Linked DNA regions of Homo sapiens: regions 1 and 2 are each linked to region 3. Evidence: fine-mapped expression QTL. Tissue or cell type: esophagus mucosa. Region 3 holds a variant in brackets; each other region holds the start of a gene. All regions are shown on one strand. Distances are from middle to middle.

Region 1 (8,105 bases), 36 kb after region 3:
CAATGGAACAGAATAGAGAGCCCAGAAAAAAGCCCACATGTATACTACAGTCAACTAATTTTTGATAAAGGCATCAAGAATATACAATAGGGAAAGGATGATCTCTTCAATAAATGGCATTGGGAAAACTGGATATGCATATGCAAAAGAATAAAATTGGAATCTTACTTTATACCATACACAGAGGTTAACTCAAAATGAATTGAAGACCTATACACAAGATCTGAAACTACAAAACTAGAAGAAAACATATAGAAAACTATAAAAATAGAAGAAAACTTTTGTTCCTTGAAATTTTTCTTGGCAATTTTTTTTTACTTATCACTCAAAGCACAGGCAACAAAAGCAAAAACAAACACGTATAACTATATCAAATTAAAAATTTCTGCGCAGCAAAAGGAACAATCAACAAAATGAAAAGGCATCCTATGGAATGTGAGAAAATATGTGAACACTGTATGTCCAATGAAAGGTTAATATCAAAAATATATAAGAAACTCTTACAACTCAATACCATACAAATGAACAAACAAACCAACAAAATAACCCAAGTGAAAAATGGGTAAAAGGGCTGCATAGAAAATTTTCCAAAGAAGATATACAAATGACCAACAGGTACATGAAGAGATGCCCAACATCACTAATCATCAAGGAAATGCAAATCAAAACCACAGTGAGATATTGCCTCACACCTGTTAGGTTGGCTATTATCAAAAAGTCAAAGATAATGAGGGTTGGGAAAGATGTGAAGAAAAGGGAACACTTATCTACTGTTGGTGAGACTATAAATTGGTACAGCCCTATGAAAATAGTATGGAGTTTCCTCAAAAAATTAAAAATAGAACTACCATACGATCTAGCAATCCCTCTTCTGGGTATATATCCAAAGGAAATAAAATCACTATCTCAAAAAGATAGCTCTACTCCCACATTCCCCCTTGCAGCAATATTCATAATAACCAAAATAAGGAAATAATCTAAGTGTCCTACAACACACTGATAAGGTTTGACTGTGTGTCCCCACCCAAATCTCATCTCGAATTGTAATCCCCGTAATCTCCACCTCAAAGGAGGGACCTGGTGGAAGGTGACTGGATCGTGGGGGTGGTTTTCCCCATGCCGTTCTCATGATAGTGAGTGAGTTCTCATGAGAGCTGATGGTTTTATAAGTGTTTGACAGTTCCTCCTTCACACTTGCACACACTCCCTCCTGCAGCCTTGTGAAGAAGTTGCCTGTTTCCCCTTCAATTTCTGCCATGATTATAAGTTTTCTGAGGCCTCCTAGTCATGCTTCCCATTAAGCCAGTGGAACTGTGAGTCAATTAAACCTCTTTCCTTTATAATTCCTAGTCTCAGGTAGTATTCTTTATATCAGTGTGAGAATGGACGAATACACACAATTGAATATTATTATTGAGCCTTAAAAATGAAGGCTATCTGGCCGGACATGGTGGCTCATGACTATAATTCCAGCACTTTGGGAGGCCAAGGTAGTCAGATCCCTTGAGCCTGAGAACTCAAGACCAGCCTGGACAACATAGCAAAACCCTGTCTCTACAAAAAAAAAAAAAAAAGCAAGAAAATTACCTGCGTGCAGTGGCATGTGCCTGTAGTCCCAGCTACCACGGAGGCTGAGGCGGGAGGACTACTTCAGCCCAGGAGGTCAAGGATGCAGTGACCTGTGATCCCACCACTGCCCTCCAACCTGAGTGACAATGTGAGATCCTATCTTAAAAAAAAAAAAGGAGAAAGAAATCGAAATCTTGCCATTTGCAATAACATGGATGAAGTTAGAGGACATTACGCTAAATGAAATAAGCCAGATAAATAAACATAAATACTGCATAGTCTCATGTACATGTGGAATCTTTAAAAAAAAGTCAAATACATAGAAACAGAGAGTAAAATGGTGATGACCAGGGGCTGAGTCATGGAAAAAAAAGGGGAAATATTATTCAAAGGGTACAAACTTTCTTTTTTTTTTTTTTTAAAGAGCCAAGGTCTTGCTGTGTCACCCAGGCTGGAGTGCAGTGGGGTAATCATAGTTCACTTCAGCCTTGAACTCCTGGGGTCAAGAGATCTTCCTACCTCAGCCTCCTGAGTAGCTGAGACTACTGGTGCACACCACCATACCTGGATAGTTTTTTTAATTTTTGTAAGGATGGGATGTCATTGTTACCCACGCTGGTCTCAAACTCCTGGTCTCAAGTGACCCTCCCACCTCAGCCTCCCAAAGTGCCGGGATTACAGGCATGAGCCACCACACTCAGCCAAACTTTAAGTTCTCAAATAAATAAGTTCAGGTTTAATGTCCAGCTTGGTGACCATAATTAGTAATAATGTATTGTGTACTTGAAATTTGCTAAGAGAGTAGATCTTAAGTGTTCTCACCAGGGAAACAGAGGTAACCACGTGAGGTGATGGATGTTAGCTTGATTGTGGTAATAATTTCACAGTATATATCAAAATATCATGTTGTAAAAAATATATACAATTTTTATGTGTTAATCATACCTCAATAAAGGGTGCGGGGGAGGATATTGCCTCCAAATCAGGGTCTATTCACACATTTCCCCTGAGGAGATTCCCTCCAGCCTGGCCAGCTCACTGTTCAGCCCCGGGTGCTGCCCCTGAGGATGCAGCTTCTGGGGATGGCTGAGGATGGCTGGCTACACTGGAGGCAGGAGGCTGATGGTTCAGTGATGTCTTTGATCCCTACATCTATATTACTGCATTGTTCCACTCACTGGAATAAGAACTTTGATTCCTATTTAAACCAGGGCTTTAGAGGATATTTAAAAGAAATAATGGGAATTCCCAACATGGAAACATTACTTTTTACTGAAAGCACAGTTCACAGACAGGGGGATAAAAGGAAGTTAGATCTGATTCCTGAGTGTCCTACCTATTTACATTTTGGAATCCAGTAATGTAAGTACATTTATGCTTGTGTTTAAAATATGAGCATAGAAACAACACCTAGAAAACACATGTATTTAAATCTAAGTTGAAGATAAGATGGAATTTATTGGAGGGCAACAGCAGTGACCAAAAAAAAAAAAGCAAGAGACCAATTCAACACATTAGACCTGGTCAAATAACTACCTCACGCGCAGCTACAATTACCTGAACGCCAACAACAAAATGCTGTGACGATTCAGTCTTCATCATAATTACTCATCTTCTATAGACGATACAGTCTTAAAGCATAGGAAAGAATGTATGTACAAAGAAGCACGGAAAATGACACGGTGTAGAAGATGATGACTACTCCAGTGAATGCCATAGGTGGAGCCAATTTTCTAACTGGAGTAAAATGAACTAAATTCAGAATCAAATTGAAATGTAGAGGAATATTTATTTTTCTCACCTTAATGCTTTCCTTTAAGCAGGTTTAGTTTTCATTCATTTCACTGATCTAAGGTTAATAAATTCATTATTTCAGCACCCTATGAAGAAGAAACACATCTTTTTTTTTAATTATTCTTCCTCAATAAAAGCATATCTGGAATCCTATTTTCTGAGTGAGCTGGCACACGGGGTGGGGGAGGGGAAAACTGGGAGTGTGTTGGGGAAAGCGAGGGCAGGAGGGATGACAAATCTGACCCTACCCGACAGTGCTGCCTGTCCTGTAGCATCCCAACCCTTACAGTGGTCACCCATGTGTAGTTAATCAGATTAAAAGCCTCTGAGAAACCCCTTTGAATCTCTGTCAAACAAAGACATGGAATAAACAAGAAAAAGCAGGAAGGTTATAATGCTGCACGTGGGTTAGTAATAGAAGCAAATGCAAACGCCCAGGTACCTCAGAGACTTACCCGTACCTGTCAGGGGTCTGAAAGATTTCCTGTGGCCCTGGCAGTCTGGATTTAAGGCAGGCTTAGGGGAATTAGTAAACAAAACACAGCTGAGGGTCTTTTGCCATAAACTGAACAACCAAGGAAATGAAAGTAAGGCCACGGCAAAGTTGTCTCAGCGGTGTCACTGGCTGCCATGGGGCAGCCCTGCGGTGGAAGGGCCTGACCGGCCCGGGCCAGGGTGACATCTCGGGATGTGATCTGAGCCGTCCTTGTGTGCAGATCCATGTGTTTGGAGAACAGGGTCTGTCTGTTATGTGAACACAGAGGGCATTGAGCCCAAAGCCTCATATACATTAAAAATATAATGAGAGAGATTTTTATCTTCCATGAATATTTAATTCTTCTGAAAGCCAACCATCTGCATATCACAATGCCCCGATGCATGTGTGTGATTTTCTCTGTTGTCTTTCAAAATAAAGCAGACCATTTCACTCTTCCTGTGATGCCTTGAAAGTTGCTTAAATGTGCATTGATCACTTTGATCTAATGAGTGTGTGTATTTTAAAACAAAGTCAGCACTGTTGCTCTAATCTATTTGTGTGAAGGAAACAGAACAATGGGGGGAAACCAGGTCGGGTTTCATCGTTTTCCTGGTGGCCTGTATCACAATTCACTGCCGTTTTGAATGCTGTTTAATTTTTGCTGATGTCTTTTTATCTTAGGCTTCATGTGAATTTAAAAAGAGTTTCATTGATATGCAACCTACTGTGTATTATGATATCCTGCCTGCCCTGTTGCACTGTGGAAGCCTGCAGCTGCCTGAAGCCTAATTATGCATGCATGCATGCCAAGCCCAGATGCTCGGCCAAGAGTGCCTCAACCGACTACAGTTTCTCACTTGTTTTTGTTTGAATTATAATTGGGCAGATCTATATTTCTCAACCCATCTTGTAGCTTCAGCATGCTCCTCTTTGCCTCTGTTGCTACCTCTGCTTGAGTCAGCTTCTTCATGAAGGAGTCCCTTGCCAATCTGAAGTGCCTCTGAGATCTGAGAAGGGTCATTCATGGGTTTGACAAATCCTTTTACCTACACCGCATTTTAAAAGGTACAAAAATGACCCTAGCCCCAATCAGATTTCCTCCAGATGGTTGGTAGCTTAAAAAAAAAAAAAAAAGAATAGTTAACTAGAAGCTGGCATCTGGGTAGAAACAAAGAAGGCTTAGAGCCAGGCATCTACAATGGAGAGGAATATCAGAACTAAAGCTTTACACCTGCTGAAGGAAGGTAATGGAGACTAGCAAAAACAGATTTGTTAAGCATGTGCATTCACTATTCAGAGAGCCTTTTGTGAACTGTTTTCCAGGCTACCTACGGGACCTCAGTCTTCAAGAATAACAAAGCCTCATCTGAGAGTGTGAAACTGGGTATGGCATCGCACTAAATGTGGTGTTACTCTGAGTCACCCTTCATCTGGAGATGTACACATAGAGTAACCCTCTCATATAGGATGGCAGCTGCTAGTTATAGTACTTATTTCTTTTTTTTACAACTTTAAAAAATTTCTTGAGATGTGATTTCACTATGCTGCCCAGGCTGGCCTCAAACTCCTGGCCTCGGGAGCTCCCAAGTAACTGGAACTACAGGCACACACCACCATGCCAGGCCATACGGTATTTATTTCTGAGGTACTATCAGAGACACTGTATTGTTTTTTAAATGGAGCATCAAATTAAGCACACAGATTAATTTCATTGAAAATCGTGGGATATTTTTTGATCCTGAAGCTTAAAAAAAAGTGGTGAAATTATATTGAAGCTTCAAGAGTAAGCAGGAATTTATAATAAGATAATTCTCCATGACAATCTTAAGACATAAAATCATTGGGTGAGCATTTGTCATTCAATTAGACTACTTCTGTTTGAAGAGTAATTCTTAACAACTAACATTTTCATCCAACATGCTGGTAAAGAAACAATTTTTCTGACATTTGTTAAAATGGCTAGGTAGACTTTATTCAGGGCTATTGTGATAAAAGTAGATACTGCTGCAATACAGTTTTGTAGTAGGGGAGAGAGATTGGGCTCAACATTGAATATAAGGAAAAGTGAAGATTTATAGTGAGGTGGGACACTGAATGGAAAATTGCTAAGAAGAAATATCATGGGAAGAGGGGATTCTGCCTAAAATGATTCTGGCTAATCTGACCTAACAAGATTCTTGCTGATAGCAGGCCAAAGTGGTCAGACGTCAGCTGGCAGATGGTGGACAATGAGGAATTTGATCAGATAGTGTGTGTCATCCATTACCAAGGGGAGAGGTTCTCTCTAAACTAACTTTTCAAGATTCTTGCTAAAACCGGATTCTACAAGGCTAGAGACAGAAGCCTACGGTCAGGTCCGGTCTAGCAAAGGCATCAGTATAACCTGACTAGAGATTGGTCAAGGAGAAAATCTTTGTCAACACCTTACTACTCATGTTATAGTGCCATTATAATTACTTGAAGTTGATACTATTACTATTTCCATTTTACAGATAAGAACATTGAGACCTTGACACTTTCCCAAAACCAATCGCTTCTATGTTGGCAGAAATGAGATTTGAACGCACATTGTCTCAGTCCAAAATTCATGTGCCTAGCAGCGATTATATTTTGCCTACCTAAGAGGAACATTTGACTCAAATACTGTTTTCAGCACACAAACTCTGTTTCTCAGATGTAAATAATACTGACATTTATCTAGTGCCTACTCAGTGCCAAACACTGAGTGCTTTACAACTCCTGTATGAGGTAAATGTATGCATTAGCCAATTTTCTAAATGAGCTCTCCACTCTTAACCATTCTGCTAATAGTTTCCAACTTTAGCTAAAACATAGATGGCTGAGCTCTCTCCCTAGTGTTTTGGATTCAGTAGGTCTGGGTTCAAGCCCAAGAACTTGCTTTGTAATACATGATGTTGATCCTGCTGGTCTGGGGACCATACTTTAGAACCACTACTCTATGCTGTACTAATATTACCAATATATAATTGGTATAATTAATTATCCCAGGTCCTTCACCTGCATGCTATACATTTCTAATCCTATTAAGGGAGAGGAAAATTGAGTTCCAAAAAGTCAAGTAAATGGTGTGGCATCACACTGATGGTAGGCAGGAGAGCCAGGACCCAAATACAGAGCTGACTTCCAATACCCAAGCTCTTCCCAAGACCACCCGGGGTTCCAGGCTGGGTGGTCTTCCAAACTGACTAGTCATAGAGTAAACCCAGGATGTGTCTTACACTAAATGGTAACATAATACAGTGCACATTAATAATTAATATAATTCCCTGGAATATGAGGAGGAGTGTCATTGTCTTAATAAATTGCTTGGAAAACAAAATGTTTTGGGCATGTTGGCAATGTGTGAAATAACTAGTGCTGGGGCTTAGAAAAATGATACCTCAAAGCCTGGCACTTGGACATGCTGAGTACTTTCAACTAAAGAAGCAACCTCAGCACCAAGGTGACCTCCTGCCTTCCTGTCTATTGCCCCTCTGCTCCTCCAGAAGCACAGGGAAGGGTTTCCTTTGAAATTCTCCTATCTGACTAACAATGTTCCTCCAGAAGGAATGCAGTTGTCTTGGACCTCCTCCCTATAATCTCATCAAACCGGGAAGATTAACTAGAAGGAAAGAAGACTAGAATTGACATCACACCCAGAGCCCAGAGGAACTTTGTCCCAGATTATTGTCTTTTCTTCAGGTCCATTCATCCACCTAAAAATCCTTTACTCTTTCTCTAAAATTGCCTACATCTCTGTGTTAGTCTGTTTTCATGCTGCCGATAAAGACATACCCAAGATTGGGTAATTTATAAAGAAAAAGAGGTTTAATGGAATCACAGTTCCATGTAGCTAGGGGAAGCCTCACAATCATGGTGAAAGGTGAAAGGCACATCTTACATGAAGATGAAAGAGAACGAGAGCCAAGAGAAAGGAGAACCGCCTTATAAAACCATCAGATCTCATGAGACTTATCCACTACCAAGAGAACAGTAGGGGGGAAACTGCCCGCATCATCCAATTATCTCCCACTGGTTCCCTCCCACAACACATGGGAATTATGGGAGCTACAATTCAAGATGAGATTTGGGTGGGAACACAGCCAAACCATATCAATCTCCTGTTTCCCTGTCCCTCATGAAGAGGGCATTCAAGCTTCAGTCATCTTGCCCTTCATACTTTGTGTGACTCCTGTGCCCTTGCACGTTAACAAATTTGTATGCCTTTTCTCATGCTAATCTATCTATTGTCTGTTTATTTTAT
Region 2 (8,105 bases), 340 kb after region 3:
AGCCGTCCAGCTCCCCAGTCAGGTATCCAAGTGATAACACTCTTAAATCTCTAGCTAAGAACTGGGTGAGGGAACAGGGGTAGAGTGCTAACAGCCACCAAAACCATCGAGTTTTTCTGCAGTTATGAAACCAATGACCCAACACATCAAGCTTGGGGTTTCATTCAGGACCAATAACAAGAACTCATTCAAGGATATCCTTTCACAGTACTATTTTGGAGACAGTAAGAAAAAATAAAAGGGATGAGGTCTGTAGAATGTAAATTCGAATCCTCGACATTCCTCTCCAGGGAGGGAACTTGAACCTTGCACCTAAGGACACATTACCCGCAATACTAGGATGAATAAATTAAAATAGAAAACTGTTCCCCTTAAGGAAGAAAGCAGGACAAGAGTCAAGAGGGTGCATGAGCAGGTTTTCTATTAAAAGCACACGGCAACCTGCTGACTAGTGAGGAACCGATCTACAGGGCAAAAGGTACTTAGAACACTCAGGCCCTCCCACCTGGGAACCCAAACACTAGCATCACAAGCAGCAGCAGCAGCAGCAGCAGCAGCAAGGACAGCAGAAGCAAGAGCCAAACACTGCACCCAAGTAGGCTCCCCCATATCAAATTTTAATATAAAGGATGCATATCATAGAAATCTCACAAAGAACCAGAAAGCATAAAGTGTAAGGCACACAGAGGCACACCCCCACACACCCACACAAATGCACACAGAGGAGAGTAGGACATCTAGGAAGGCGACTTTATCCTACCTTCTCAGTTTTCAGTTTCTTGATTCGCCTGTGGCTCTCCTCCTCCTCCTCTTCCTTCTTTACCAACATAGAGTTTCCCATGAGCCCTGAATCCGGGGCACTTTTGCTAACTTCCCCTGCAGCGGCGACGCTGCCACTCCCAGTGCCCCCGCAGTGGAAGGGGCTCGCGCCACCTCCATTGCTCTTGGCCCCAAAGCCATAGAGGTGCCCCCCGGAAGGGGCCTGGCTGCCACTGCCATTCTGGTGGCCCTGAAGCAGGTCGTGCTTGTCCTTCCTGGATTTCCCCGCATCCTTATCCCGCTTGGCGCCTCGGCTGCTCTGGCTTTTACCTGGCTTCTCCTCTTTGCTTTTCCCACAGGAGCCTGCCCCCGCGGTGGCGGCAGAGGTGCTGGTGCTGGTACTATTGCTGTTTGGGTTGCCGCTGCCGCCGCTGCTCACACTTTGACCCAGCGCTGAATTCATGCCAGTTGCCTCTCCAGGGCGCCCTTGGACTTCCTGCCTCTTGCCAGTGCTGCTGATCTCGGGAATCCCATACAAGGCAGCAGAAGGCAGAGATTTATTAGCATCCTTAGAAGTTTTACTCCTTTTCACTTTTGATTTGCTGGTCTCTTTGTGTGAATTCCCCTGGGGAGCAGAGGCCTGAACAGAAGCAAATTTTAGGCCATCAGCTAAGGCTGCGGTAGCACCAGCCCCACTGGAGGCCGGACCTCCACAATCCTTGGAGTTGCTGCTACTAGTGGTGGTGGTGGAATTATTCATCTCAAATTTCTGTCTGTCCTTCTCCAAATCAGCGTCCAAATCAATTATTAAATTTCCAACCCCGATTTCCCAATCATCGCCACTGTCATAAGTATCAACTGTATTTGGATCCACACCTTTTCCTGCAGTAGAAATGTTCACTGACATCCTGAAGATGAGCTCTCTAGAATAAAAATCCGATGAACTTTTCTTTGGAGATGAGGGGACATTCGTTTATCTCCGCTGGGCTTTCTCTCAAAGAAAAAAAAAATCTTCTAATCTTCCTCTTCTTTTTCCTGCCCCACGAATGTGTCCAGGGATTTTACACCCTCAGTCCAGGTCCACCTTTTCCTGTGAAGGGGGGGGGAAAAGTCGAATATTTCTTGTCTGGGTGTTACCAGAATAAAAAACGATTAGTATTGGGGAATCAGTAAAGGGGACAGGGAAGGATGGAGAGTAAGGTGGCTCATGTATTGTCCTCACAGTCCAATATCAGGTTTAAAGGAAAATAACCAAACCCGAAAAATAAACCTATGACAGTAAGCATCTTACGGTAGCTAAAAAGAAAATCCCTTTATCAACAACACAAGGATAATCACCTTTTTAAAAGCATTAAATTATCTTAAGGATCTGATTCAAGTCCAGAAAGGTTTTTGTGTTCTTTTTTAAAGTTTAGGATTTCAGTCTGGCACATGTGATATCTCAACCCCAGAAACACAGCCTGAACACTCAGACAAGAAGGAAGAACACAGCTTTAAACATCCCTAAACATGTCCTAGATCTTGCAATTTAGAAGACCAGACCCTGGAAGTTCTGAGGCTAGTTTTCAGAATAGAATGTTGCTAAATTTTCCTTATTTCTAATTTAGGTTTCAGTACTTCTTTTTACAAATTGTCTGGGCAATCTGTTTTTTGTTCCTAGTAAGGAACAGAAAAAACAACCAATAACTGCCCCCAACACACACACATACCTCCCTCCTATCCTCTTTTCCCAAACAGCTTCTACAATTTCTTTTTTGAAATATGCATGTCTTTTAAGAGCATTTCTCTCTAGAAAAGACAGTGTTATATAAAAAGTTAAATACCTGCCTTTTGAGAAAAAAATACATTTAAACAATTCTACCATATTCCTAGGTCAGAGAATTGCTCACTCTCTTAAATACGGTGCTACTGACTGTACAGAAAACTGATTAAGACATACACTTTAAGTGATCTGCGCCAAGGTGGCCTCAATGACCGCAAATGAGTGTGTTTGACAAAGAGCAGTTAAAACGGTTTTTAAAGGGATCAGCCCCTTTTTAACAGTTGATTGTCAAGAAAAAAATAAATAAATATACATACACACACACATACACACACACAGACATTGCTTACCTTTTAATCCTTTATCATTTTTTAATTAGGCCAGCAAATCAAAATGCCTTTCCCACTCCACTCGGCAAACAAGCCTGTGCCTCATTTTACTTAAACACCAAATGATCAAGAAGGAAGAAACCAAATAACACATCTCAGCCAGAATAATCACTCGATAACATTATTCCACCTCCCCACCCCCCTTTTGGCAAACGAATCAGTCCTTTTCTCCTTAAAAAAAATGTGTCACTGTACAGCTGGAAAATAATGTTTCACATTCACAACAGAAGCACCAAAGGTTTTTTTTTCCTCTTAACAAGCATCGAGAATAATAGTTTTTTAAAAAACAGAGAGTTTAGAGAAAAAAGTTTTCCCAACTTCTCATTCCGCCTTCAGTTCCAGACTTCAGAGTCACCGTGATCAGTAATGATCCCATGTAGCAAACCTACAGGCGTCCGCTAGTAACGAGACAGAATGTGCTAACATCGGGATAAATTAGTGAAAGGGAAGAAAGAATAAGAAGAAAGGACTGAAAATCTGGGCTGGATTCCGCCTGTTAGTCGGGAAGTGGCATTTTTCCGCCCGTCCTGACAGATTTGATTTCTTGAACTAACTTAAGAGAAAAGGAGGGGGGGAGTAGAGGGAGGAGGAGGAGAAGAAAGGGTGGGATGAGAAACTGGGCAAGAGGAGAAAAAGAAAGGTGTGGAGGAGGAGACAGCAGATGATTCAGTGAGCTGATAAACCAGTTATAACAGCATTCGCTCGGGGCGGGGGGCGGGGGGCTTGGGGCGGTGGGGTGGGGAAAATAACGGCGTTTAAAATGGGCTCAGTCTTCGAAACCTAAAGGATGTGATGTTTTCCTGTCTTATGTTGTTTTAAGAAAAAGGAACTGAGTTCCTAGTATAGCTCCCGAGGGGAGTGGAATCCTCTGTCGCTCAGGTCAGCCAGTCATGTGGTAATTCGATAATTAGAGTCAAAATAAGGTTTTTGTTTTCTTTTTTTTTTTTTTTAAGGCGACCCTTTTCGGGAGTTTTTCCCTCTTATACTCGCAGCAAACGGTGTGTCTCCCTTTTATTTATTTTTTCTCTCCTCTCCCTTCGCCCAGCCCCTCCTGTGTTTAGTCAGATGGCCCCGGAGCTTGGCTTAGTATTTTTAATTAGCTGGCGTTTGGAAGCTAAAAGCAGTAATGAATTGTTGATGGATTGGAAGTGGAGAGTCGCTTTGCTGGAAATGTCGGGGCTGGGAGAGGGGGATGGGCGAGTTAGTAACAACCAACCATCTAAAAGGAGCGATTTTGTTACAGTGCAAGCCTTTCACATCACGTGAGGATCAAGGGCTCAATTGGTTGTCGTGAGAACAAAAATGGTGACAAGCGTATCAAGAAAATACTGATCTGGTCTTTAAAAAAAAAAAAGCTGAAAGTCTCTCCCCTCCCCCTGCACACACTCCCCCAACCTCCTCCCCCCGCCCCCCCGCAGTGGGCGAAGCTACAAGTTATGAATGTGAAACATTTCTCGGAGATCTAGGATCTCCGAAGTTCGGAAGGAGCGAAATGTAATGAGCACAAGAGCAAAGCAGATGTTTTAAAGAAACACTTTATAAACCTTTCCTCAACTTATCTCCAATTTGTCGGCTTTCCCAAGGGGCCAGGGACGGGGACGCCTGGGGGAGGGAGAAGGGTATCTCCGAGCTACTTGGATTTTAGGGACCCCCACTTCATGTATTAAACAAAGAAAAACCTTTTGCTTGCTCCCCAGCCTGGTCCTGTAATAAATACACCATTGTTACTATTTGTGGGTTTGTTTGGGTTGGGTGGGGCTTTTATTTTTTCTCTTAATGGTATTTTTGTTGCTTGCTTTTTTAAGGAGATGGCGAATGGTAATTATAACCATTACATGTAATGAGTGACTATTCCCTTGTTTAATATTAAATTATCGGGCACTGGGATCTGACAGGAGACAGAAATCGGCTTGTTCTGCCCTTGCCCCCATTTTCCTGGATCGCTTTGGGAGGGGGGTCTGCCCAGCTAGGACAGAAGAGGGAGGGAGTAAGGTGAGCTAGAGAATTGACACTGCAGACCAGGATATGCAACTGTGTCACTTTTATTCTCCTTTGGGTTAGAGCCCAAAAGCTAATTTCCTCTAAGTTACCCCGAGTGCCCAGTCAAGCTTAATTTGTGTGAAGTTACAAATGCTTCACCCTCCACTGAATAAAATTCACCCTTCTTGGGTTGTTGTTCTAAATGCAAAAGCCAAACCCTGTAACTAGTTCCTCATTTCTATGCATAAAACTCGCACATTCCCCTGCATGAAGTCCCCGCTAAGTGCTATATAGAGACACACCACGCAACCGTACTTACGGTCTGTATTGGATCGAGTTGACCTTTTCCTTCTAACTGCATTGAATGTGTTTGGTTGCAGCCGCTTTATTTTGGAAATTATAATCTCTTCAACAAATTTATTATTAAAGAAGATGGACCATCAAATGTCACAGACCGTCCTGTGTATTTTTTATAAAAGCAAAAATTAAAATTTAAAAAAAGCAAAACAAAAATCCCCCTGGTGCACACACACAACAAGCTTGTTCTGCAACACTAAATCAGGACTGAAACACAACACACACACAGGGGGAGTGGAGCAAAAGAAGCTCTCAGCCTCTATACCTGAAAGGGACTTTTCTTTGTTCCCAGTGCCCTTTCGCATCGGGCCAATCAGAGAGCAGCTTTTATGAAACTGGGCTCTCTCATTGGCTAGCTGCTTTCTCTTGGCTACTGTAGGGGGTTGAGATATACACACGTATAAAACACACACTGAGAGCGGGTGGGGGTGCTGTGGGGGGTGGTTGTGGAGACAAAGCGTTTTATTTTCCAACCAGATTGGGGTTGAGGAACCTCCCGCAGTAAGAAGGCAAAAAAATGGTGCGCCCCTTTCAATTACTACATCATTCACATAAAACACTTATTTATTAAAACAAATCTCAAACAGGCTGCGAGGAGAGGATGTCGGTAAATACAAGTTTGATTGTGTTATCTTGGGGGAAATAATGTATGTGATCGCTCGGTGGCAGAGAGAAGCCAAACGAGCCGCTAGCGCGTAGCGAAGAGAAAAGGGAGGCTGGCTGTGTGGAACTGACTGCGAGCATTTTGCCGGCTTCCCTTCCTTGTTCCAAGGACTTCGCAGCCCAACTCCCAAGACTGATTTTCTGTATTGCAGCTTCTGGCTTTCAACCCTCCCCCCACCACTTTGCCCTTCCTGCAGTTTTTTTTTTTTTTCTTCCCTGTGTCTCTCTTTTTACTCGCTGATTAAATAAGAAAAATCGATCTGCGGGTAAAGGCGATGGTGGGGAAACAAGTAACCCTTTTGTTTCCAGGGCTCTGGTCTACAGGCACTGAAGTGTGAACGCAGGCGACCATTTAACCAACACTATGTGAATGGTTCTTCCCTGGAATTAGTAACAAATCTTTTCCACCTGGTGTTATGTGACTCCAAAAAAGAAAAACTTAATATTAAAATAAGGCCCCAGCTAAACATAGTAACACCTCGGGCCAGCCTCATCTTTTAAAAAATCGACTTATGAAAGTTAAATGTACTAGGAAGATTAACTGTTAAACAGTCCCAGTACACGTATTTAAACTGTGGAAGGGTCAGAATTCCTCTTCCCCCATATCTTTAACCCCACTGGTGGGGAAGGGGGCATCATGAATCCTCTGAATGCTACATCTACAATCCACAAACACAGAAATATTTTAGAATTTATTGTAGGACAAATGCCAGCAACCAAGTTAATGAGACTCAGCTCATAGGATAAGAGAGGTTAATATGAAATAACAAGTTTAACATTTTACTATAACAGCTAACATATTTAAGCTAATGTATTTACATATATTAAGCCTTTAGAGTACATTTAATTTTTAATTTTTTATTGTTACCTTCATTGTTTTTAGAAGCTACAATATGGACATTTGAAAGTCAAAGGTTACTGTAAACTGAAAGCATCATGATCCCAAGTTTTAAAGATCCAGTACTACTGGGATTGTAATTTCCACGTGACAATTGTAATTTAAGGTTGTGTCTTAACTGAGTCATATGGACATGTAAAGTGAATGAGTGCTAGCAGAAGACAGCTTCTGATGTAAATATTCAGTGATGACTTCGTGGATCAATAAAAATATTTATGTCACATATTTTAAATAATGGCTATTGACTCATGTTTGAGCTTTCAATATATTTAGTCCATAAAAAAATTGCCAATTAGCTGTTTCACTACCATAAATGAACTAGATTTGAGGCTGCAAATAGTAATAAACAGCAGTTTCCACCCTTTATTGGGACATATAAACCAGAGGAATGCAATCTGTACTAGTCCTTAGCTCTCCCTAAGTCAATTTGTATTCAAATCAAAGCTGTACTTTAACAAATAAAATGGGCAAATTAGGGATCTGATATCTACCTAGCCTCCATTTTAGCTTTGAGATTTGTTTTATATTTTTGAATATACAGATTTTACATTTGTGTATGCCCCATTGATAAGAATACAGCACCATACTGTTTTTTAACTTTTCTTCTTCTAAAAGAGTGATTTCTCAAAGGATCAGATCACTCTTGGGCACTTCCTGTGTCCCTGGGGTGTCATCTACATCTCAGCCTTTGGAAGCCCATGCCTACCCCATATGTTATATTAGTTTGGAAATAATATATAGGTAGTTCTTAAAAGAATGGGACATTTAAAAATGAGACCTAGTGAAGCTGGAGAAGATTGGAGTTCCTCCAATACAAAACAAATTACAGCGTCTGCAGCACAGATGAAGTCTAACTAAAACCAAAGTTTAGGGTTTGTAATAATCAAATAATCTAATCTAACCCGAGCTTCAACACTTAAACCCAAACCTTAAACCTTTCTGAGAAACCCTACTGGCCCAAGATGAAGGCTTAGGCCCGACTCTACCACATATTTAACCCAAACCATTTTGATAAATTAAAGTATTTCCTTCCATTCCAACATCTCCACACTCCATTTACACCCCACCCCCACCTCCTTCCTCCCAGGTTCTTCCAGGAGACTTTTGAATAAACCAGTGTTGTCAGACTGGCTTTTCTTGTGTTTGTTTTGTTTTGTTTTGTTTGACAAAGGGGCCAATCAAAAGGCATCAGAGGACCATCAGCTAATTGATGACTGAAACTAAGACAATTAACTACCAGTTTTGAAAATCAGAGCTACTCCTCTCACAAAATTGGGAAGTTTTCTGTATTTATAGA
Region 3 (8,109 bases):
CTTTGTTTTTCTAAGTCTTGCCTTTCTTTAAAGATTTTCCTTACCATTTGAACAATGTCGCCCCCACTGCAACAACATTAATTCTTTCTTAGATTTAGATATCACCACAGAAAACTGGCGTGAAGACATAAAATGGTGTTAAACAGGAACCAGTAACATAAGCGCAGCCAGTTACTTAGTGGCTTCAAAAAAGTGCAATTATTTTATCTTCTTCCCTGGTTTCTGTGGGTGAGGAATTAGATTGGACGGTTGTAACTCAAAGTCTACCTGTGGTGGATTTGGAACAGCTGGGGGCTGGACTACCTAGGGCCTGGCCCAGCATCCCTTCATCTCTCTCTCTCTCTCTCTGTGTGTAGTCTCAGGGTCTCTCCATTTTCTCTATCTGAGCTAGTTTGGACTTCTTCAGAGAATGACTTCTTAATTAGCAGCCTAAAGCTTAAAGGGTAAGCATTCCAGCAAGCAAGGCAGAATGGAAATTGCCTTTTGTGATTTAGCTTCAGAATTTACAGAGGACATTTCCACCATAGTCCGTTGTTTCAAACAGTCATCAAAGCCTGCCCGATGCCAAGGGGAAGCAACATAGATCCCAGCTTTTGTGAGAAAGGATGTCAAAGTCATATTTATAGAAAAGGTTTGTGAGATAGGAAATGTTTCTGTGATCATCTTTAAAAAACACAATCTGCCAAAGGAGCAGATTAATTTTTTTTAAGAGAAAAGAAGGAATTTTGGGATTCTGCCATTTCCCTGCCAAAGAACAATGTTCCAGATACCTATTCAACTATTGTGGTTTTGCTTAGTTTTTATAGGCATGCTTGTCCAAAGGCATGTTTTAATTATTTTTTATTTGCATGTTGTACATTATTTTTTCCAAAATGCTAAAGTACACTTAGTTATGAAGAGGGGCGAGTTTATTTCTACACTTTATACATATTCACTGTTATATATCTTATATATAACAAGTTTTTGTCCCAGAGATGCTAGGATAATGTAATGCAACCCAAAAGTGATTAAAGCCCAAAGCAGCCTTCTTTAAGCTCAAGTAAATATGAAAGCAAAGGTGATATGGTCATTGAAAACATGGTTCTAGACTCTACCATTTTTATCACTGTCTAGTTCATTGTCTGCAGATAAATGTGACCTAAAACATAATGTTCCCTAGTGGAATACTTCACAGATTTTTTTTTCTTTTTTCTTTGTAATAGAGAAAGAGTCTCACTGTGTTGCCAGTGTTGGTCTGAAACTCCTATCTTCAAGTGATCCTCCTGCCTCGGCCTCCCAAAGCTCTGGAATTACAGGCATGAGCCACCATACCCAGCCCTTGACAGAGTTTAACGAGTGACACTGTCTTGAATCTGATGTTGGTGTTCTGAAGTACAATCCTTCATAACCCTGCCAAAGATATGACAATGTAGCCAGACCCAGGCTAGGTGCTGCCATCAAAAAACATGGTCCTAAAATCAAAGTGTACTTTCCAAATAACTCATGTTAGAAACCTGGACATCTCTAACGCTATGAAGAGGATACGTAGTCCATAGCTGGATTTCTGAGCAATTCTTCTTCCCTTTTTTTCATTCCCTTTGTTTATACCCCAGAATTCTCTCCTCTAAACTTTGAAAAATCCTCCTGATTTGAAACGAATCTATTTTATCTGCCTACCACATCTTTTTTCCTCCAAATTGGGTAGCATAACACTCAAGTAATGGCATACTCCTGCCCCACAGGCTAAAAATACCCAAGTAGACAAAGAATGTTCTTCAGTATGAACATCTGATGTTAATATTTTTTTCCCAAATCATTCTTTCAAGGGCAAGTGTGAGTGAAAAGCACTCACATGGTGAGTGGTGCCATGTCACCATGGCATTTCCTTTATCAAGCAAGTCCATCATTCAAATCCTTAATGGGTAATTGTCAGGGGTGGGAGAAGAACTTCTCATACTTTAGTATGCATATGAATATTACCTGGGAATCTCGTTATATTCTGATCCCATGGGTGTGGGCTGGGCCCCAGAGTCAGCATTCCTAACCAGCCCCCAGTTGGTGTCGAGGCTGCTGGTCTGGGAACTATACTTGGGGTAGCACCAACCTATTTTTAAACTATTATTTTTAGTTATTTAAATTCTAAATTGCTTGTTTTGAACTTTTTCCAGTTTACTGAAGATTTTGGAAGGTATGAGATAAATAAGAAAAGATACAAAGGAAAATCCAGTGATCTCAGCCAGCAAAAGCAATAGGAGTGGAAAGGCCATAGGCCAGTGCTGGGTTGGTGAGTTGCAGGTGGATCTGAGAAGGCAGCAGACGCAATGTCTCACCCTGAAGTTCCAAACCCGCCACTGCCCTCCCCACCCTACTCTGTCCTCCTTCCCCATCTGATTCCTGAACTTCATGCCTCAGAGACCCTCTGGGTACCATTACGGGTAAGTTCAGAGGTGAATTGTTAGTTAATGACTGAGCAGGGTTGGGAGCAGGGAGCTGAGAACTAGAAACAAACAGAGGCTAAAAGTTTGAATGAGATATGTGCGAGTTTCTCTGGGAGGCAGGGTGCAAGGACAGAGGAAGGATTGTCAAGAAGGAAAGGAAAAGCACCCACAGTGAAACCTGAAAGAGGCCCAAAACAAAACTCCCCTGATTTCCTCATTGCCTCAGGGCTGGGCCCCAGGTACATTTATTTCTTTTCTAATTACCTACACCTGAGTGAACATAGACAGGTATTTATATCTCAGTGAGCTGTTTAGGTGTGTTTATTTAGGTTTTATTTATAATCCCAGATTAGGTAATTTCCTTTTAAAAATTATAGGTGGACTGTGATGAGAAAGAGCTTTTATCTGATTGTTAGTAAGATCATAGGCGTAAAGAGAATTTTGCTTTTGAAAACTTACAAGGGCTATTGAGTTTTTCAATTAAACAATGTGGCCCTTCTAAGGTTACTAAAGAGAAACCCACATATTCACAATCAACCTCTAAGGCTGTTGAGGTTTCTCAGTTCTTTGAACCTCGAACACTCTGTGTTCCTAAGCCACTAGAGGTGGAAACAAAATAGAGCCGCTTATCACATTTCTTCTATTCCACACCTCAGTATTGTCATCGTCTCCACTTGCCCTTCAGCGGAGGAGATTAATAGATTTCAACAGGACCTTTTGTGGGCTCAGAGGAGCTGGCTCTGCACTTATTTGCCCTCTTTGTGTGGTTGTAAAGTGTTCTGACCAGATGACTC[G/A]GCATTGCCAGTAAGAACCCAGCCCCATGCCACAGGGACTCTATGGCCAGAAGCACTGCTTCCTCTGCCTTGTTTCTTGAGATCAGTGAAACAGGAATATTTTCTTGCGAAACCCTGATTCAATAACTGGTGGCTCAGAGCCCACAATAAAATCATGGTAACAGTCTATAAACATCAAAACATTAATCCTTTCCAAGTAGGAGCTGACGAGAATAAGCCTAATTGCAGTAATGACCTGAAGTATAGATGCTGCTCTGCATAAACTCTCACTCCCTGGTGGGAATGTTCCCATGGAACTCTGGGACTGTGCCATGCACACACCTAACTCTAATAATACTAAATCTAAACATGGGCATTCCTGCTGGATGAGCGGACTGATAGTCATTAAAGGCCTAAAAGGTAAAAAATTATTACTACTTTAAATCACTTTCCAAAGACTAAGCATTTTTTAAATTGTTAATGATGGCCCCATTCTCTCATTTAATTTCATTTTTAATTTTTAACTTTAAAAAACACTCCAGTTAGATACAAATATTTTAATTTTTATTTATTAGGGACCATATATTTATGCAATATCCATGTTTGCTACCATAGGCACTTGAGCTGTGATGATTTCACTTTGGTAACTTGAAAATGTATATAATAGATTTTTAAAATTAATTTGTAACAGGAATAAAAATTACCACAGTGTGAGAATTCACAAAGCTCCCTCTCCTTCCCCTTTTTCTATCCTCACTCCACAACTGGCACTAGCTTTTAAAGGGGATGAATTTTTGCATCCTGGATCAGCGCCTGGACTTTTCTTTGGAAAAACAAACAAAGAGAATGGATAAAACTGAAAGAAAATGGAAAACATCCCTTCACTATTCTGGTGGGATTGACCCCATCCCCAACTCCAAAGATGGGCCCTAATTTGTTTATCCAAATAATACACATACACACACACACACACACACACACACACACACACACACACACACACACAGCCCACCTTCTGTGGAGGCCTCAGTCGCTATGACAAGATCCAGTGTTGTTTTCTCCATAGTAATGATGACTTTCCTTGTTTTTTGGTTTGTTTGTTTACTAGAAAAATTAATTCCCTGGAACTGAGGACTTTGGTGTCTTTTTCACTCCTATGCCCAGCACCTAGCACAATGGCACAGCATCTGACACATAGTAAATAATCAATATTGCTATTGCAGTAGCTTCCTAACTGGTCAAATTACTTCTGATCCCGCCCCGCCCTCTCAGTGCAGCCCCACCCTCTGCACCTCTGTACCTGTGCAGCAGCTTCCTCTGGCCAGCATGGTGTCCACAGCCCAGAACCTGGCACTAGGAGATTCCTGGAGAAAGTGAGCCTTCTTGTCTGACTGTCCAGAGAGTGAGAGAAAGTGTGGCAAGTATTTTTGTATATAAGCTTCCTAAAAATAACTTGTTATAGAGCCACATGAATACCTGCTTACGAAGCATTTTATCAGCCTCACGAAACATGTGAAAAGGAATTACATAAAATTAGTAAGACAGATCTGAAAAATGTTTTCATTTAAAGTAAAATTCAAGATTTGTTATCTGATAATATTTTGTGATGATTATATATATCTAAAGAAAGATAAATTTCTTTTTGAAACTTATTCTCCCTTTTCTTTCCTCAATAACGTTTAATTTTTTATGTAAGAAGTCCAACATACTTAGAAGTATACACAGAGAATGACTTAATAAAAACTTACATAGCTGCAACTTAGATTTGACAAATATCAATACATTTCTAAACATCTTTATTTAAAAATAAAATTGGATATTTTCACATAATTGAAGTTCATAAAAAGATTTGAGCCACAAAAAAAGAGTTTGAATATTACTGTAACATAAAAGTTTGAAAGATTTTTGTTGAATGATTTTAAATGTTACTGAATCAAATTGATGCAGGTTCTTTGGAAATAAAATAAATTTAGGCAAAATTACTTCATCACAAATACCTGAGTGTTTTAATTTTTGTGTGAATAATATTAAAATGTGACTGAGGTTAATATGCAGCTAGAAATCATACATCTAGGAGATGGATCTGAGGTTCACCTATCTTTTTATAGTGAATTTTGAAATATAGGCAAGCACAGCATAATGATGGTTCCATCAATGACAAAGGGCATATATAGTGGTAATCCTGTAAGACTAGAATACTGTATTTTTACTGTACCTTTTTAATGCTCAGATATGTTTAGATATGTAAATACTTACCATTGGGTTACAATTGTTTACAGTATCCAGTATAGTAACATGCTATACAGGTTTGTAGCCTAGGAGCAGTACCATATTGCTTAGGTGAATAGTGGGTTATACCACCTAGGTTTGTGTAAATACATTCTATTATGTTCACACAATGATGATACTGCCTAATCACACATTTCTCAGGACGTATCTCTGGCATTAAGCAATGCATGACTGTAAAAGGAAATTATGCCTTTTTTTCTCCAAATAGTAATTCTCTTCTAGAACACTATTCCTCCTACTTATGTGTTCTAGTATGTGGGTTGGTATGCCTTGTATGATGTACAACAGGTCTTTCCTAGTTAGGAGAGATATTTAAACAAAGGTAGAAAGAGAATTTTTAAAAAGAATGGAGAAAATTAAAGACCACTTCTTTCTTAATTGAAGGACTATGGTTGTAAAAACTTTTGATCATTTCCCTTCTCTACCCTTGTAAATACATGTGTAATCAAGTACTGACCTTTTGGTACTGGAAACAGGAAACACCTGATGTACAAGGTTATCTTTCCTGTAGAACATGTTGTCAGACGCACAGCTGAATTAAGGGTGGATCAGGCAGGCTGCTGCTTGGGAAACTGTTCTGTAAGAGGGGCTAAGAGAATCGTGGAAATGTCACAAGATGGAGGAACTTGTATATGCCACGTTTCTTCTTAGGGAAAAGGATGGGATACTAAGATGGGGCTAAGACCCGAGAAGGCGATATTTGCATCTGACTTCCAAGAAGAGCAAGCCAGAGGCACAGCCTCTGTGGGCACAGCCGTGCTGAGTGGAATATCCACACCTGGTAGAGCCAAATAGCCTAAGACATGAAAGGGGACACCGAGGGACCCAGAAGTTCCCACTGCACATTGCTCCCACACAGAGCTCAGACTCTCTTCGATATAAATGTACAAATATTGAAAGAATATGGTTTTAAAATAAAATTATCAACCTGCCAGGATGCCCCCAGTCCCCATCTAGGCCTGGTCACAAATCATTCTGACAGCAAAGCTGTGTTCCTCTGCCATCTATCCATGGAAATGGTTGAGTTCTTTAGGGAACTTCACTCTCATGGTCCTATTGTACTGGGACATTGGGCGAATGTTCCACTCTTTATAGATAAAAATTGTAACTGAATGCTTTTCAACGTGTGGACTGGCTGTTAGTAAAGAAGAAAACACTCTTAATTCAGCTACTTCCTTTCCTATATCAACATCTCATTCATTCTGTTTCTCTCTCACAGTGAGGTTGGTCTCAACAACCCTGATGGTGTTTATCAAATTCCTGGGTCTGAAGGGACTTGCCCCAACCCTTATAAACTTTCCCCACCAGGAAAGAAGGAAATACACACAGTTGACTTTGAGGGTTCTTTTTGAGAATTATTTTTTATTATCGCCTATTCAAAAAATTTACCATCAAACCATGTGTTTCAGATAAAGACTAATAATTACTAAACAAGATTATTGTCTGAGAAACCATGACTTATGTGAATTGCTTGTTGTCTTGTTACAATTCTACAACTATATGAGAGCCTCTCTCTGTCATTATTTGCATATGATAATTCCAGAGTTGGACCTAACCCAAGCACAGTGAAAAATCAGCTGTTTCTGACTCTGTTTCCTCATTTGTGATTTAGAATTAATGATAACAAATAGAATTATGTTAAAGGTTGAATAAGATACCATGAAGGTTCTTGTATGCTATAAATTGTTGGTTATGAGTTGGCCCATTGATGGTAAGATTTGTATGTTTTTTCCCATATTAAGTAAGTAATATTACTAATTCTGAAGAAGGTGCTTTGCAAAGTCCTGTTCACTGTAAGGATCTGATTTTGTTGCTACAAACCCTAGGTTGCTTGTTTGGGGTTAGGACCATTATAAAAGAAAATAGGTGTAGACTGTTGGAATCCAGAGTATGATGTATGACAGGGGTGCAAGATTAGAAGTTAGCCCTTGATATTATTTCTATTCCAGTGGCAGGTGGGGTGAGGATTTTTTACTGAAAATTGAAATTCAGCTGCAGCATTGGCTCATGTCATCTTTGCTGTCATTATGTCCCAGAATAGCATCACTTCAGTCAGCTTTACCAAATTAAATCAAGTATCACGGGGTTACAAGCTAAGAAACAACAATGGGTTAAATTTTTAGATTGTCTTTTTGGTTTTTAAGGAAAACATACAAGGTTCCACAATAAAATCATGTTATTAAAAGGATTGCTCTGATAGGATCAAACATATTAAAATCACATATTTCGTAATGTCATTATGTTTGGTCTTTAATCTATCCTAATGAGCTCACTGGGTCTAACAGTTCAGCTTGTTGAGATTTGTGAATTAGAGCTAAGCTTTTACTGACCCTAATTTTTTAGGTTAATAGTAGTTTTTATGAGAGGTGATCACCTGATACATTGTGGGGATAAACGAATCCACTCATTTGGGACTCTGCCATCTGACACCAGTAACTCTTTACAAGAGTTAATTTTTACTCAGATTTTTCTCCAAAATGATATATTAGCCATAGCTTTAACACTGTGTATATCTAATATGCAAGTACATACAATTTTAATGTATATATTAACTATGAAAATATATTTTCTTTCTGCCTTAGAAATAAGCACCTTTTTCTTTGCAATAGTCACCAAAATGCTCATTATCC

Alleles and levels. Positions count from the first base shown, and alleles are read on the strand shown. Sizes are in standard deviations (SD) of each study's normalised expression.
In carriers of allele G in region 3, the expression in esophagus mucosa of the gene that starts at base 3,950 in region 1 tends to be lower than with A alone (moderate effect, 0.68 SD a copy in GTEx).
With allele G in place of A in region 3, the expression in esophagus mucosa of the gene that starts at base 3,316 in region 2 is lower (moderate effect, 0.43 SD a copy in GTEx).

The links. PIP is the estimated chance that this variant, and not a neighbour inherited with it, causes the effect.
Region 1: LINC01170 starts here. The variant in region 3 is fine-mapped to the expression of LINC01170 in esophagus mucosa (GTEx, PIP above 0.99). The same link has a PIP of 0.9 or more in atrial appendage.
Region 2: it holds the start of ZNF608, and the variant in region 3 is fine-mapped to the expression of ZNF608 in esophagus mucosa (GTEx, PIP above 0.99).

What each region holds. Positions count from the first base shown.
Region 1 is chr5:124,434,571-124,442,675 of GRCh38, forward strand. It overlaps LINC01170 (long intergenic non-protein coding RNA 1170), which reads right to left and starts at 3,950. Exons shown (of 6, transcript NR_125774.1): 1 at 3,825-3,950; 2 at 3,127-3,306; 3 at 1,588-1,725. RefSeq lists an enhancer at 7,727-8,105.
Region 2 is chr5:124,743,324-124,751,428 of GRCh38, forward strand. ZNF608 (zinc finger protein 608) reads right to left here and starts at 3,316. Exons shown (of 10, transcript NM_020747.3): 1 at 2,872-3,316; 2 at 761-1,849. The coding sequence starts at 1,666. RefSeq lists enhancers at 168-217, 608-687, 748-817, 915-1,608, 1,448-1,517 and 4 more and a silencer at 5,434-5,673.
Region 3 is chr5:124,399,018-124,407,126 of GRCh38, forward strand. All of the region lies in intron 3 of LINC01170 (long intergenic non-protein coding RNA 1170), which reads right to left. It overlaps LOC105379155 (a long non-coding RNA gene), which reads left to right and starts at 4,493. Exons shown (of 3, transcript XR_001742872.2): 1 at 4,493-4,563. RefSeq lists an enhancer at 3,127-3,296 and a cis regulatory region at 3,212. The variant G/A (reference allele first, on the strand shown) is at 3,212.